2 separate regions of the Homo sapiens genome follow, and region 2 is linked to region 1. Evidence: fine-mapped expression QTL. A gene starts in region 1. The other region holds a variant in brackets. All regions are shown on one strand. Distances are from middle to middle. Region 1 holds the start of STK10 (serine/threonine kinase 10). Region 2 overlaps STK10 (serine/threonine kinase 10).

Region 1 (8,327 bases):
GGCTCACTGCAAGCTCCACCTCCCAGGTTCACACCATTCTCCTGCCTCAGCCTCCCCAGCAGCTGGGACTACAGGCACACTCCGCCACTCCCGGCTAATTTTTGTATTTTTAGTAGACACGGGTTTCACCGTGTTAGCCAAGATGGTCTTCATCTCCTGACCTTGTGATCCGCCTGCCTCGGCCTCCCAAAGTGCTGAGATTACAGGCGTGAGCCACTGCACCCAGCCCAATTTTTGTATTTTTAGTAGAGATGAGGTTTAACCATGTTGGCCAGGGTGGTCTTGATGCCTGCCCTCAAGTGATCCACCCGCCTTGGCCTCACAAAGTGCTGGGAGTACGGGTATGAGCCACTGTGCCCTGACATTAATTTTTTTTTTCTTTTTTCTTTTTTTTTTTTTTGAGACAGGATCTCACTCTGTCTCCTAGGCTGGAGTGCAGTGGTATGGTCATACCTCACTGCAGCCTTGAATCCCAGGCTCAAGCTATCCTCCCACCTCCACCTCCTCATAGCTGGGACTATGCCCATGTGCTACCACGTTGTATTTTTTGTAGAGATAGGATCTTGCTACATTGCCAAGGCTGGTCTTGAACTCCTGGCCTCAAGCTATCCTCCCACCACAGCCTTCCAAAGTGTTGGGATTACAGGTGTGAGCCATGGTGCCCAGCCCCTCCTCTGTCTTAATTTTCTACTCCCTACTCACTCCCAAATAAACCACTTACACTCAAATCCTTGCCTCAGGGTCAGTCTCTAAGGGAATCCAACCTAAGAATACTATAAAATGCTTTTTCTGTGACTATTAAGACTATGTGATTTTTCTCCTTTACTCTGCCAATGCAGTGCTATTACAGTAGATTTTCTGATGTAGAACCATTCTTTTATTCCTGGATAAACCTTTTGTGGTTACGATATTTTTATTCACCTCTGGTTTGATCTTGCTAGCATTTGTATTTTCCCTGTCTTTTTAAGAACTGAAATTAGGCCGGGCGTGATGGCTCACACATGTAATCCCAGTACTTTGGGAGGCTGAGGCGGGCGGATCACGAGGTCAAGAGATTGAGACCATCCTGGCCAACATGGTGAAACCTCATCTCCACTAAAAATACAAAAATTAGCCGGGCGTGGTGGCACGTTCCTGTAGTCCCAGCTACTTGGGAGGCTGAAGCGGGAGAATCGCTTGAATCTGGGAGGTGGAGGTTGCAGTGAGGTGAGATCACACCATTGCACTCCAGCCTGGCGACACAGCAAGACTCTCTCTGTCAAAAAAAAAAAAAAAAAAAAATGAAATGAAATTAGTCTACAATTTTCTTTCTCTCTCTCTCTTTCCTCTCCTTCCCTTCCTTTTTAAGACAGGGTCTCACTGGAGACCAGGCTGGTGCAGCGGTGAGATCACTGTTCACTGCAGCCTCGGCCTCCTGGGCTCAAGGAATCCTCCTGCCTCAACCTCCTGAGTAGCTGGGACCACTGGTGTGCACCACCACGCCTGGCTAATTTTTTGACTTTTTGTAGAAACAGGGTCTCACTTTATAGCTCTGGCTGGTATGGAACTCCTGGGCTCAAGTGATCCTCCCACCTCAGCCTCCCAAAGTGCTGGAATTACAGGTGTAAGCCACTGTGCCTGGCTTACAATTTTCTTTTACTGTCCTTATCTAGTAATAGTAAAACTCATCTTATAAAATAAATTGGCAGATTTCCTTCATTTTCTATCTTTTAAAATAATTTATATAAAGAAAGAAATTATTTGTAAAACCACACAGACTGATGTCTTTCACCAAGAACAAGCTTTTGATTCTTGATTTTTGTGGTTGTTGTTTTTTGGGTTTTTGTTTGTTTGTTTTTGTTTAGAGACAGAGTCTCACTGTGTTGCCCAGGCTCGAGTGCAGTGGTGTGATCTCGGCTCACTGCAACCTCCGTCTCCTAGGTTGAAGGGATTCTTGTGCCTGAGTCTCATGAGTAGTTGGGACCACAGGCACGCACCACCACACCCGACTAATTTTTGTATTTTTAGTAGAGACAGAGTTTCACCATGTTGCCCAGGCTGGTCTCGAACTCCTGACCTCAGGTGATTCACCCGCCTCAGCCTCCCAACGTGCTGGGATTACAGGCATGAGCCACTGTGCCCGGCCTGATTCTTGATTTGATTTCTTTATTGGTTACTAGTTTATTTAGGTTTTTATTTCTTATTGAAATTATCTTTTACCTATCATTTATATTTTCTTCTCAATAATTACCCATTTTATGTAAATTAAAACATTTATTCACATAAATTTGTCTAAAATATCACTTTATGATTATCAAAATTTCTACAGTATCTAATCTGATGTTCTCTTTTCATTTTTTATTTCTTCCAGTGAATATTTCTTTCTTGCACCAATTTTTTTTTTTTCTTTTCTTTTTTTTTTTGAGACGGAGTCTTGCTCTGTTGCTCAGGCTAGATGGAGTGCAATGGTACGATCTCGGCTCACTGCAACCTCCATCTTCTGGGTTCAAGTGATTCTTCTGCCTCAGCCTCCCAAGTAGCTTGGGTTACAGGCGTGCACCACCCCGCCCGGCTAAGTTTTGTATTTTTCGTAGAGCTGGGGTTTTGCCATGTTGGCCAGGCTGGTCTTGAACTCCTAACCTCAGGTGATCCACCCAGCTTGGCCTCCCAAAATGCTGGGATTACAGGTGTGAGCCACCGTGCCCGACCCTTTTTTTCTTTTTCTTTGACTAGTCTTGTCTATTAGTTATTTCAAAGAAGTAGCTTTGATTCTATTGAACCTCAATGTATTTCTTACAATGCTATTGAGGTATAATTTACACATAAAATTCATCCATTTACAAAAATGAAAGTTTAAAATTCAATTATTTTTGGCAAATTTACCAAATTATGAAATTGTCACCATTGTGCAGTTTTAGGACATTTTCATCACCCCAATTAGACTGTTTATTGTTCATGTACAGTTAATTCCCATTTCACACCCAGCTCCAGGCAACCATTAATCTACTTTCTGTCTGTATGGATTTGCCTTTTCCAGACATTTCATATAAATGGAAATTTATAGAACACAGGGCCTTTTGTGTCTGGCTTCTTTGACTTAGTGTTATTGAATGAATGAACCTCTCCGTTTTTCTTTCCCTTCCTTCCTCCCTCCCTCCCTTCCTTCCTTCCCTCCCTCCCTCCCTCTTTCTCTCTCCTTCTCTTCCTTTCCTTTTTCTTTCTCTCTTTCTTCCTTTCCTTTCCCTTTCTCTTTCTTTCTTTCTCTCTTTCTCTCTTTCCTTTCTCTCTTTCTTCCTTTCCTTTCCCTTTCTCTTTCTTTCTTTCTCTCTTTCTCTCTTTCCTTTCTCTCTCTCTTTCTCTCGCTTGCTTGCTTTTCTGGAGCTCTCAGAGCTGGTCAGAGCCCTCCAGGCCTACAGCTTTCGTGGAGTCAGAGCCTTCATCTCCTAGTATGGAAGCAACCCTCTTGGTCTCCCCACCCGCTTCGTACAGTTGGCCAAATGGTCTGAAACAAATGAAAGACCTGCCTTTCAGCATGTTTTGGGAGGTTCAGACAGCGCCTGACTCAATGAGAACGGTCAGCGACGAGCGGCGTTTCCTTCTTTTAAAGACCCTCTACAATTCCAGGCACTCCTGCAGCTGTGGAAACATTCCGAACGGCTTAGCAACCAGGACACCCTCTGCGCCGACCACTACCAGCATCGCAGGCTTCTTGAGCTGGCTTTCCCAGTGGAAAACCATGCTTGGTGTTTGCACACTGTTCAAAGGATGTTTTCGAACAAAGCACCGAGGAAGGGGCGAAAACACCTCAACACAGCCGTTCTCTGGGGTTGGAGCTATTGAACTGTGACATTTGCGAAGACTCAACTTGTTTATGACACGGTCCAAATAATAACCCTTGCAGACTGCCCGCCCCCCCCCCCCACCCCCAGCACTCTCCTTAGATTCAGGTAAAAGCATGTTATAACCGTCTATAGGACAAACAGGCAACAGTAGCAGTGAAGTGACTCAAGTAGCCAGGATCGAGAATGAAGGTGCTCAAAGAAGACTTTAGTTTGATCTGTATGTAGTGCGCTCATCTTTTTTGAAACTAGGAAATTAAAAATTAGAATAAAGTTTTTATTTAATATGCAAATACATCCGCAAACCCATCAGGAAACATAAGAGAAATCAGTGCCAAAGGAGCTCTTTCTCCCAGCCCTCTAATCCTGGCAGGTTTGTGGATCGTGGACGGGGAGCCCCTGGAAAGGACCGCGCCGGGAAGCCGGGCCCTGCAGGGACTGGCCGCGGCTGCACCGGCGTTGCCCGTCGCACACTAGGAGGCAGCACCGCGCCGAGGAACCCGCAGCAGACGGGCAGCCAGCGTGTGTGCCTGGGGCGAGTGCCCTCGCCTGCCGGCGTCCCCATCGGAAAAGTGGGGGCGAGGGCAGCCTAGCGGAATAGCTGCGGGAGGATTAAATGAACGAGTGCAGGTTCACCTTCTGGGCGCTGACAACGATCCGTGGGCTCTCGCGAAATGCCAAGTCGCCGTCCCGCTTGCTCCCATAAAAGTTTTGGGAGCCACGCGGCGCGGCGGGCGGGCTCCTGAGTCCATGAGCGGTCCCACCGAGCGGTCCCCGAAGCTTCCCCAAAGCCCAGCCCGCGGCTCGCGGAGCGTGGTGTGGGGGGACTACAGTTTCCAGAGTGCCCTGCGGCGACGGGCGGAGCCGGGGAGCGCCCGCAGCCAATTAGGGGGTCCCGGGGCTCTGCCGGGGAGCGGCGGGTGGAGCCGGGCCGGTGGGCGGGCGCGGGGACGGTCCCCTGGAACGGGTCCGAGGCTCTCGCAGGCAGGGCTGGGCCGGGCAGGAGCTGCGAGGCCGGCACAAGGGAGGCGGCCCTGGGGACCTGACAGGGCGGGGGCGGGGGCGGGCACGCCGCCGCCTGCGCGGTTCCGGGTGCTCCCGGCGCGGCGCTGCCCAGGGCACACTTGACCGAGGTCGGGCTGCGGGGAAAGGCGGGTCTGGGGAGAACCCCGAGAGACGCGGCGTCCTCCAACTCCTCCTCCTTCTCCTCGCGGCCGCCGAAGCCACAGCCCGAGCCCGAGCCCGAGCCCGAGCCGGCGCCACCGCGCCCCCGGCCATGGCTTTTGCCAATTTCCGCCGCATCCTGCGCCTGTCTACCTTCGAGAAGAGAAAGTCCCGCGAATATGAGCACGTCCGCCGCGACCTGGACCCCAACGAGGTGTGGGAGATCGTGGGCGAGCTGGGCGACGGCGCCTTCGGCAAGGTTTACAAGGTGAGGGCGCTGAGGTGGGTGGCCGGACGCGCGTCGAGGGGCTCCGGAAGGAAGGGATGCCTGAGCCGGACCCGGCCAGCCTGGCTCCGGCTCCGAGGGCTGCCCGGCGCTGAATTCGGGGTCCCTGGCCCTCATCCCGATGACTCTTGTTTTTTGGGGGGAACATCACTCGGCCCGGCCGAGTCCCTGCGCTCTGGGCGCCCCCTCCGGGCACGGTTGCCGCCCCCACCCTAGCCCTGTTTCGGAGCACTTCCTGTGTGTCCTGCACTGCGCTCGGCGCCGCACGGGGAGACAAAGGGGCGTTGACAGGACCTCAGCATCCGAGAGGGCCACTCGAGGGACCTTCCAGGGACGTTCCGTAAAACGGCGATACGGGCACACTTTTTTTTTTAAGAGAGACCACAGATGCTGTGGGAATATCGAGGCGATGTGGACCGAGAAACTCGGCTGCGCTTGGACGGGTTGGGAGCTAGGGACACATCTGAAGATGAGCCAGAGACAGGGAAGTGGGGTGGGCGAGGGGTGGCCCATGGACTGAGAGGTGGGGCTTGGAAAGGTGGGTTGGGGCTGGTCAGAGGGGGAGGTCAGGATCTGGTGAATGCTGAGCCTGGGGGAACAGATTTGATTCCGTCGGTCTGAGTCACAGCTGGGGAGTCTCCCAGCCTGCAGTCACCTCTCCCCTAGAGGAAGACGCGGCAGAGAGCTTTTGTGGAGTGGGTGGGGCAGAGCTGATTGAGTCTAGAGAAGTGTGGCAGCAGGACGTTGGTTTCTGCTCCTGGGAGCTAATTCTGAGGTGGTGAGTTGTTTTAGGGAGCCAACACCTACAGCTTGACTCCCCCCTTTCCCCTAAGAAAATTTTTACTGGGAGACGCCCACTTGTTAAATTGGTGTATACCTCCAGGAGAGCACCTCTCTTCTAAGCCACTATCCTCCTCCTTGGGGCTCCTGTAGCTTGTAGGGCACTCTGACCCTAGGATTGCCGTTCTATGAGGCTGGACCACAGAGAAGGCTTCTCCAGGCCTTCTCCTCTGACTTGGAAGTGGTCTATCGCCTAGTTACCGAAGTAGTTCCTAGATGACCGGTGTTATAATAGCATCATTTGGGAGCTTGTCAGAAGTGAACAATCTCATGCCCAGCCCCGACCTGCTGAATTAGAGTCTACGTTTTAATAAGATCCCAGGTGATTCCTAAGCAAATAGGTTTGAGAAGTACTGCCCTAGAGGCTTGGAGTGGTGGCGTTTTTTCTTTTTTCTTTTCTTTTTTTTGAGACAGGGTTTCCCTCTGTTGCTCAGTCTGGAGTGCAGTGGCCCGATCTCGGCTCACTGCAACCTCTGCCTCCTGGGCTCAAGCAATTCTCCTGCCTCAGCCTTCGGAGTAGCTAGGTCTACAGGTGCACACCACAGCCCGGCTAATTTTTGTATTTTTTGTAGACTTGGGGTTTCGCCACGTAGCCCAGGCTTGTCATGAACTCCTGAGCTCATGAAATCAGCTCGTTTCAGCCTCCCAAAGTGTTGGGATTACAGCGGTGAGCCACCCTGCCTGACCTGGAGCGGTGGCAATTTTGAGACCAACCAGGCCCACTCAGTGTCTTTTTTTATTTTTATTTTTTGTGAGACGGAGTCTCACTCTATTGCCCAAGCTGGAGTGCGGTGGTTTGATCTCGGCCCTCACTGCAACCTCCACTTCCTGGGTTCAAGCAATTCTCCTACCTCAGCCTCCCAAGTAGCTGGGATTGCAGGCACACACCACCATGCCTGGCTAATTTTTGTTTTTTTAGTAGAGACGGGGTTTCACCATGTTGTCTAAGCTGGTCTCGAACTCCTGACCTCAGTTGATCCACCCACCTCGGCCTCCCAAAGTGTTGGGATTACAGGCGTGAGCCACTGTGCCTGGCCTGGTGCCTGTTTTGTTTCCTTGCCACCTCCCCTCTGAGCCCACACTTCCTGTTATGGGGTAGGGAGAGGTCTTGTGATCCGAGAGGCAGTGCTTTTGGACTGCCCCGACTTGCTGTCCTCCTTTGCCTGAGGGCCTTGCCCATATTTGAGGGCAGCCAGCTCACCCTGTCCTCAGCACGTCTTTTCTTTACTCTCCTCAGAGCTGCATCTTCTTCCTGGTGGCACCAGAGAACGATCCTCAGCCTTGCAACTGTCTCTGGACACTGCCAGTGTCCTTGACTGCCTTAGACAGAGCCTGCTCCTGCAGCTGTGCTCTGACTACTGTGAGGGCAGCTGGACCCCTGTGGTCAGCTCACCACAGGACCCACTTTCTCCAGAAGGTTCAGTTGGTGTTTTTAGCGTATGCTAAACATATGGGTTTTTTGGGCCGGGCGTGGTGGCTCACGCCTGTAATCCTAGCACTTTGGGAGGCTGAAGCAGGCAGATCATGAGGTCAGGAAATTCAGACCATACTGGCCAACATGGTGAAACCCTGTCTCTACTAAAAATACAGAAATTAGCCGGGCATGGTGATGCATGCCCGTAATCCCAGCGTCTCAGGAGGCTGAGGCAAGAGAAACGTTTGAACCAGGGAGGTGGAGGGTGCAGTGAGCTGAGATAGCGCCACTGCACTCCAGCCTGGCGACAGAGCGAGACTCTGTCTCAAAAACAAAACAAAACAAAACAAACATATGGGCTTTTTTTTTTCTCCGTTAGGGGCTTTCAATTGCATTCTTGTCCCCTTCCCCGCAGTGTGTCCTGGCTTCACAGGGTTCATCTTCCTTTAAACTTAAACGCAGAACTTTGCTTTCATGCTGGTAAGATTTCCCCTTGTCATTTTCAGTTGTGTTTCCTCCTGCTTTAGTCCCTTAAGACTCCCCTGCTACTCTGAAAGTTTCATACAAAGGAACTCATCCGATCCACAATCGATACTGTCTCCTCTTGGTTCTCCAAAGCACGTGGAAAGTCAGTTTTTAAAAAAGTGACTCCAGGGCCAGGTGCTGTGGCTCACGCCTGTAATCCTAGCACTTCAGGAGGCCGAGGCGGGTGGATCACTTGAGGTTAGGAGTTTGAGACCAGCTGGGGCAACATGGTGAAACCCCACCTCTACTAAAAATAAAAAAATAAAAAAATTAGCCGGGT
Region 2 (8,327 bases), 130 kb after region 1:
AAAAAAAAAAAAGTGCATTTTCAGCCCGGCTAGTGTTACCCTAAAGGAAGCAAAATAACTGAAATATGACAATGGTTTGTCAGATTGACGATATTGTCTGTTGGACTAGTATTTCATGGGGGGAGAGGGATTAGGGAAAAATGTCTAAAAGAACTTCTGTAGGGACTGTAATTTTTTAAAAAGGTTGAGAAACACTTCCCTGCAGGAAACTGAGGTGCTGTTACCAGAAGAGGGGGGTGGATACCAAGCTGCTGAAAACAGCACCTGCCCACTCTGGGGGAGTTGGAAGCTGAAACCAGCGGCAGGCAGGAGTAGGCCAGTGTGGAGCACCTGCTCAGAGGGGCTTGGTGGGGAGCCGCGTAGGGTGCTGGCCGCTGCAAAGCTGAGCCTCTTCTTTGGTTTCTCTGGCCCGGGGGTTCTGCGTTGAAGATTATACTGTAGGAAGCATGGAGAGGACCCTGACCCAGCTACTCTCTGCTGTCTCTGCTGCAGGTGAAGAACGAGGTGGAGAAGCTCCCCCGACAGCAGCGGAAGGAAAGCATGAAGCAGAAGATGGAGGAGCACACGCAGAAAAAGCAGCTTCTTGTGAGTCCCTGGCCTCAGCTGGGGAGCGCAGGGGCTGGTGCGAGACCTGGAATGGTGACCAGGCCCCCTCTCTGCCTTTGCCCAATCCCTGCCCCTCAAATACCCCGTTCTGAATACCTAAATCTGGCCTCATCCTTCATGGCCCCATTATCCCCTCCTCCATGCAGCCTTCCTCGATTGCCCTGCCTCCATCTGGAAGTAAGCTCTTCCATCTCTGGATACCCCAACACTTTACATTGACCACCTCCCAAACCCTTAGCACCTCCTACCTTGTTTTAGGGTTATTTATTTGTAAGTCACATCTCCTTGACCAACCCAGTATATTCCCCTGCCCACTTGGCATCTTTTAAGTCTGAAGGACATCAAACTTGTGATGTCCCAGACCTGGTCCTGTTATGCTCTGAGGGGGTGCCATTTTCCTTCCTTTCTGGCCCATCATTCCTGACGCCTCCTTTCCCTCCAGTCCTTCGTCACCTCCAGAAGCATGGTATGTATATTTCTTATCTCCTGTCTCTGGATCTATGAACTCGTCACCATCTCCATGATCCCCCAGCCACTGTCCAGTGGCCTCCCAGCGAGGCTTCCTGTAGCTGTTTTTCCCCTGCAGTTTCTTCTCTCCTGCCTGCGTGTGATCAATGTGAATTCCAAGTCTGATAATAGCACCCTTCCCCCCACAGCCCTGTGCCTTAAAACCCTTCAGTGGCTCCCACATTGTCCCTAAGATAAGCGCCGCCTCTTTGCTGTGCCCTGGCCGGCCTCCCCAGCCTTCTTTTCATCCTTTGCCGGAATGCTCCTATTTTCCCCCACGAGGGGGTCTTTGTGTGTTCTGCTTCCTCAGCCCCCAAAGCAAAGAATTTTTGAGTCCATATTTAGAAATGCTTTGTATATTACCTGCTTCAGCATTCATAGCTTACTATGGTAGGAGCTGTTCATTTTCCCATTCGCAGAAGAGGAAACAAAGGCTGAGAGAGGTAACATTGCTGAGTTCACATTCAGGGAGGGGGTCGAGGCCTCAAGCTTGTGTTCTCTCCGGGACACCCTATGACCTGTCTGTCCCATTACAGCACGATTAGGAAGAGAACGCAGGACTGGTGAGGGCGGGGCACACAGGCCCTCATCCACGCAGAGGGACAGCAGATTGGCCTGGAGGAGGCAGTTGCATGGAGAGCTTTGAAGATGTACACATCCTTTGGCTTGGATTTTCTGCTTCTAGAAATCCTGAGGGAATCTGAAAATCCTGAAGGAGTTATCACAGAGGTTCACAAATACTTAGCTACCAGAATATGAAGTAGCGCTATTTAAAATAGATAAAACCTAGAGACACCCTGTTGTTTATTGGATAAATAACATCCATAGCATGAAATATTTTCAGCCATTCAAACACATGTGATAGAAGATCACATTATTTATTTATCTGAGACGGAGTTTCAAAACTGGGAGTTTCATCCCAGTTTTTTTTTTTTCTTTTTTGAGATGGAGTCTCACTCTGTTGCCCAGGCTGGAGTGCGGTGGCACGATCTCAGCTCACTGCAACCTCTGCCTCCTGGGTTCAAGCAATTCTCCTGCCTCAGCCTCCCAAGTAGCTGGGACTACAGGTGCCTGCCATCACGCCTAGCTAATTTTTGTATTTTTAATAGAGTTAGGGTTTCACCATGTTGGCCAGGCTGGTCTCGAACTCCTGACCTCAGGTGATCCGCCTGCCTCAGTCTCCCAACGTGCTGGGATTACAGGCATGAGCCACTGCACCTGGCCAGAAGATCACATTATAACATGGAAAGATTTCTTAAAATAATTTTTTAAAATTGTGGTAAAATAGTCATAACATAAAGTTTACCATCTTTACCATTATTAAGTGTACAGTGTAGTGGCGTTAAGCCTATTCACATTGTGCGGCCATCTCCGCCATCTATCTCCAGAACTCTCTTGTCTTGTAAAACTGAAACTCTGCACCCATCAAACCGTAATTCTCCATTTCTTCTCCTCCAACCCTTGGTAACTTTATTCTGCTTTCCCTATGAATTTGACTACTCTAGGTACCTCATGTAAGTGGAATCATAGAATATTTGTCCTTTTGTGACTGGCTTATTTCACTTAGCGTAATGTCCTCAAGGTTCATCCATGTTGTTGCATGTGTCAGAATTTCCTTCCTTTTTAAGGCTGAATAATATTCCATTGTGTGGATATAACACATGATTTATCCATTTATCTATCGACGGACACGTGGGCTGTTTTCATCCCTTGACTGTTGTGAATAATGCTGCTGTGAACTTGGGTGCACACATATCTCTTTGAGCCCTTTTTAATAATTTTTGTAACACAGCAATAACAATAGCTATAGATACACTTGTATAGACATACCTACCGCAGCTGCCAACTCTGGGGGATAAGATGAGTGGAGAGTTTTACTAATTCCGTGGTTTCTAAATTTTTTTATTTTAATTTTTTTTACCCTTTATTATGGAAAATTAAAAACACAGGAATAGGGAGGCCGAGGCGGGTGGATCACTTGAGGCCAGGAGTTGAAGACCAGCCTGGCCAACATGGTGAAACCCCGTCTCTACTAAAAATACAAAAGTTAGCCAGGTGTGGTGGTGTGCACCTGTAGTCCCAGCTACTCAGGAAGCTGAGATGGGAGAATCACTTGAACCTGGGAGGCTGAGGTTGCAGCGAGCTGAGATCACGCCATTGCACTCCAGCCTGGGTGACAGAGCGAGACTCTCTCTCAAAAAAAAAAAAAGAAAAAAGAAAAGTAACATGGGAATAGGTATAATGAACTACCATATACCTGTCACCTAATCTCAGTAATATCACCTCATGTCCACTCATTCACTCCCTGACCCCAAGGTATTCTTTTTAATCAAATCCCAGACATCATATTATTTTACCTGTCAAACATCACAGAAATAACTACCATACCATAAACACACCTAGCAAATTCAACAATAATTGCTGAACAACGTCATGTTGTCAGTATTCCAGTTTCCAATCACTCCTGTAATCCCAGCACTTTGGGAGGACGAGGCAGGCAGATCACAAGGTCAGGAGTTTGAGACCAGCCTGACCAACATGGTGAAACCCCGTCTCTACTAAAAATACAAAAATTAGTCAGGAGTGGTGGTGCTCACCTATAATCCCAGCTACTCAGGAGGCTGAGGCAGGAGAATCACTTGAACGCGGGAGGCAGAGGTTGCAGTGAGCCGAGATCATGCCACTGCACTCCAGCTCTGGTGACAGACCGAGACTGTTCTTTGATCCAGGATCCAGATGAAGCCCACATGTTGAAATTGGTTGATGCGTCTCTAAGTCTCCCTTAAATTTCTCCTCCACCAATTTCTTTTCTGTTCCTGCATTTTCTTCTCTGATCACGCGGGCTTTTCTCCCATAATAGGAAGAGACATGGAGGTGCCCAAGCCGGCTCTGGATAAAGGCCTGTCCTCCTCTCTCCCCACAGGACCGGGACTTTGTAGCCAAGCAGAAGGAGGACCTGGAGCTGGCCATGAAGAGGCTCACCACCGACAACAGGCGGGAGATCTGTGACAAGGAGCGCGAGTGCCTCATGAAGAAGCAGGAGCTCCTTCGAGGTGGGGGTGTGCAAGTGGCAGCGCTGTCTTGGCCCAGAGTCGCTGTGGACATCCCAGCCCTGGGAAGTGGG[G/T]TGGGCAACAAGAACCTCCCAGGCCTTCTCCATCCCCAAAACTAAACATCATTCTTCATGGGGAAACCTGGGGAAAAGCCCCACTTGAAGTAAGGAACGAGGTAAGGACACCAGTTGTCACCAAGACTATTTGAGATTATTCCAGAAGTCAAGAGAAGAAAAGAAAGAAACAGGCAGAGTATGTTAATAAGTGAGCTGGATTTACGGGAGGTGGAGAGAGCTTGGCGTGGACTGAGCAACCACTCTGCCAGGCCATGTGCCAGTCCATTTTTCTACCTTTATCTCATCAAATCCTCACCTAACACTGTGAGGCAGGGCCTAGGTTATCCCCATTTCTGTAGATGAGGAAACTGAGGCTTGGAGAGTTACTATTCTTTGGCCAAGTATCTTAGTTCATTCAGGCTGCTGTAACAAAATACCACTGACTGGGTGGCTTATCAACAACAGACATTCATTTCCCACACTTCTGGAGGCTGGGAAATCCACAGTCAGGGTGCCAGCACATTTGTGGTCTGGAGAGGACTTACTCTCTGCTTCATAGATGGCACCTTCTCACTGTATCCTCACATAGTGGAAGGGAGACTAGCTCTGGGGTCTCTGGGTTTTTGGGGTTTTGTGGTTTTTTGGGTTTTGGGGATTTTTGTTTATTTATTTATTTATTGAGACAGGGTCTAGCTCTGTAGCCAAGGCTGGAGTGCAGTGGCACAGTCATGGCTCATTGTGACCTCTGCCTCTGAGGCTCAAGCAGTCCTCTGACTTCAGCCTCCCAAGTAGCTGGGACTACAGGCACGTGCTACCACGCTTGGCTAATTTTTGTGTTTTTTGTGTAAATGGGGTCTTCTGTGTTGTCCAGGCTGGTCTCAAAGTCTTGGGCTCAAGTGGTCTGCCTGTCTCAGCCTCCCAAAGTGCTGGGATTAGAGGCATAAGCCAACGTGCCCAGCCTGGGGTCTCTTTTATTAATAAAAAGGCACTAATTCCATTCACGAGGGCTCCACCCTCATGACCTAATCACCTCCCAAAAAGCCCCATCTCCTAATACCCTCACCTCAGGGGTTAAGATTCCAACATACACATTTGGGGAGGGGACACAAACGTTTAGATCATAGCACTGAGGTTGCACAGTTAATGGGTGATAGAGCTGGGCCTTGGATGACAATATCAGGAAGCCGGGCCTACCCTGGTGCTGTTGGGAGTTCAAGGGATTTCTGGGCTGATTGAGGAAAAATAAATGACCACAAGATGGCAGTAGCATACCAGCAGCTTTGCTTGGGGGGCATTTTGACAAGTTGACACGCTGAGGGGGTCCCTTACAGAATGAGGCTTTCTGGAGATGATGGTGCGGGCCACCATCCAGCAGGGGAAGAGGGCAAAGGAACTCTTGGGCAAGAAGGGGACTGAGAGGGGGCTCACATGTCTAGATGATGTCGTCCAGCGTGGGGAGCTCAGACGGGGCGTCTCTGGGTCAGAGAACTGCAAAGGGCAACGGTGGCTTGGGGTCTTTATGGAGCCCTTGGGTCTTCCATCTCTATGGCTGGCAGATGTTAGGTGCAGTTTCATGGGGTATGCAAAGTAGGCAGGCTCCAAATGGCTAAATATCTGCTTGGTTTGAGCTTTTTTTTTTTTTTTTTTTTTTGAGATGGAGAGTCTCGCTGTCTCACTGTGTCATCCAGGCTGGAGTGCAGTGGCACAATCTTAGCTCACTGCAACCTCCACCTCCCAGGTTCAAGCAGTTCTTCTGCCTTAGCCTCCTTCATAGCTGGGATGATTACAGCTTTGCGCCACCATGTCCAGCTAATTTTTTATATTTTTAGGAGAGATGGGATTTCACCATGTTGGCCAGGCCGGTCTTGAACTCCTGACCTTAAGCAATCCACCTGCCTTGGCCTCCCAAAGTGCTGGGATTACAGGTGTGAGCCACTGCGCCATTCTCCTGCCTCAGCCTCCTGAGTAGCTGGGACTACAGGCGCCCGCCACCATGCCCAGCTAATTTTTTTTTTTTTGTATTTTTAGTAGAGACGGGGTCTCACCGTGTTAGCCAGGATGGTCTCAATCTCCTGACCTTGTGATCTGCCTGCGTCGGCCTCCCAAAGTGCTAGGATTACAGGCATGAGCCACCGCGCCTGGCCCTGTTTGAGCTTTTTTATGTAACTATATACATTTTTTTTGTTTTTGTTTTTTGAGACCAAGTCTTACTCTGTCACTCAGGCTGGAGTGCAGTGGCACGATATTGGCTCACTGCAGCCTCTGCCTCCCCTGTTCAAGCAATTCTCATGCCTTAGGCCCCTGAGCAGCTGTGATTACAGGTGCACACCACCACACCCAGCTGATTTTTATATTTTTAGTAGAGACTGGGTTTCGCCATTTTGCCCAGGCTGGTCTCAGGTTTCTAGGCTCAAGCGATCTGCCCACCTCAGCCTCCCAAAATGCTGGGACTACGGTGTGAGCCACTGTGCCTGGCCGTACATATTATGTTTTAAAAATAACAAGAGGATGGGTACAAATTTGAGTTTGGTGCCTGTGGACTTTTGACGGTCCAAGCCTGCTGTGAGGAAGTAAACAACACGAGGCCAATATCCCAGGGCAATTTTTGGCTCATTTATAAAACAGGCCTCATCCAGGCCTTTGATGACCAGTGCAGTTAAGCAAGATAAACCTCTTATTATTTGATGTGGATCAGCAAAACAGGGTTCTTGAGTTTTCAATATTCTGAATAGAGCACAGTTGTTTTGAGAAAAGCCCTCACTTCCTTTTCCTATCCCATGATGTTGGTAAGAACCGTCCTATTTACAGAACTGTGGTTCTGATTTTGGGGTGGAAGCCAGAATCACTATTCTGATATACCAAAAGCAGATACCATTTTGCACGGAACAGGAATGCAGTGAAATAAACAACATTCGCACTGAGCCAAGCATAATCTCCTGTCTCGAAGGGCGTGAGATTCTCCCTTTGACCCCAGGTCCCCACCCGGGTGCTGTGCACAGGGGTGGATTAATAGACCTCCAGTGTTAAGATGCCAGTATCTTCATTGTCTTCATAACGCATGCCTGGGACGTGCAGGAGACAAGGAGGATCTCACCCATTTTTCAAAGGAGGAAATAGTGACAAGAGGCCATTCTGTCTTCTTCATGGGGTCTCCATCTGAGCTCTTCCCAGGTGCCCATCAGGAAGGTAGAGATGCAGTGTGGAAACTTTGCACTTCAAAGTTTCTCCCAAGGACGTCCCCTCCCTCCATGGTATAGCTGTGTCCATCTGGCAGACATGGCAGCTGATGCCTAGAGAACCTCTCCATTCCTAATCCCACCGATGGAGCTGGGTTCCAGCCTATAGCTGCAGTTTCTGTGGCTCCTGACTTTGAATACTTCCTGCTATACCATGCTCCTGGGAGCTCTCATTCCTTAGGCTTAAAGGAAGTTTCTAGGCCTCAGCTCAGATCAGCCAACATGGTCTAATGAGGTAGAACATGTGGCAATTCCTGAGCCCAGCAGGTTGGTTATCATCTCCAGCATGAGGAGGCCAGGCAGAGGTGGGGGGCAGGGGGCCTGTCGAGTCTCTGGTTGTCAGCACCTCACCAGCTCGGTGGCATGTCCTCTGCAGACCGGGAAGCAGCCCTGTGGGAGATGGAAGAGCACCAGCTGCAGGAGAGGCACCAGCTGGTGAAGCAGCAGCTCAAAGACCAGTACTTCCTCCAGCGGCACGAGCTGCTGCGCAAGCATGAGAAGGTGAGGCTGCCGGTGGCACGGGGCTCGGATCTGCTGCCGGGCCGACCTGGGAGAGCCATGAGGCTGTATGTGATGGGGCACCTCTTGGGTGCACACTTTGGATGACAAGTGCCCCCAAGAGGAGCCAGGGCTGGCTGCAGTGAGGCCCCAGGAGGTTCTCCAGGGGCGTCCTGCTTCAGCTCAAGGGGCTAGGAATAGGGGAAACGATGCAGGGAAGCCAATGGCCCAAGTGGCTCCCTCACTGACTGTTACTTGCTGTGTATGTCTCTTTCTTTTCTTTTTTTTCCCTTTCTTCTTTTCTTTCTTTCTTTCTTTCTTTCTTTCTTTCTTTCTTTCTTTCTTTCCTTCTTTCTCTTTCTTTCTTTCTTTCT

What was found.
Region 2: its variant is fine-mapped to the expression of STK10 in whole blood (TOPMed, PIP above 0.99).

The regions. Positions count from the first base shown.
Region 1 is chr5:172,184,810-172,193,136 of GRCh38, reverse strand. It overlaps STK10 (serine/threonine kinase 10), which reads left to right and starts at 4,913. Exons shown (of 19, transcript NM_005990.4): 1 at 4,913-5,250. The coding sequence starts at 5,095. RefSeq lists enhancers at 4,153-4,928, 5,981-6,060, 6,721-6,770, 7,041-7,090, 8,131-8,180 and silencers at 4,601-4,960, 5,261-5,310, 5,441-5,520.
Region 2 is chr5:172,056,978-172,065,304 of GRCh38, reverse strand. It overlaps STK10 (serine/threonine kinase 10), which reads left to right. Exons shown (of 19, transcript NM_005990.4): 13 at 493-585; 14 at 4,037-4,166; 15 at 7,832-7,956. Among named protein-coding and RNA genes, the nearest start is that of FBXW11, 55 kb to the right of the region's middle. The variant G/T (reference allele first, on the strand shown) is at 4,238.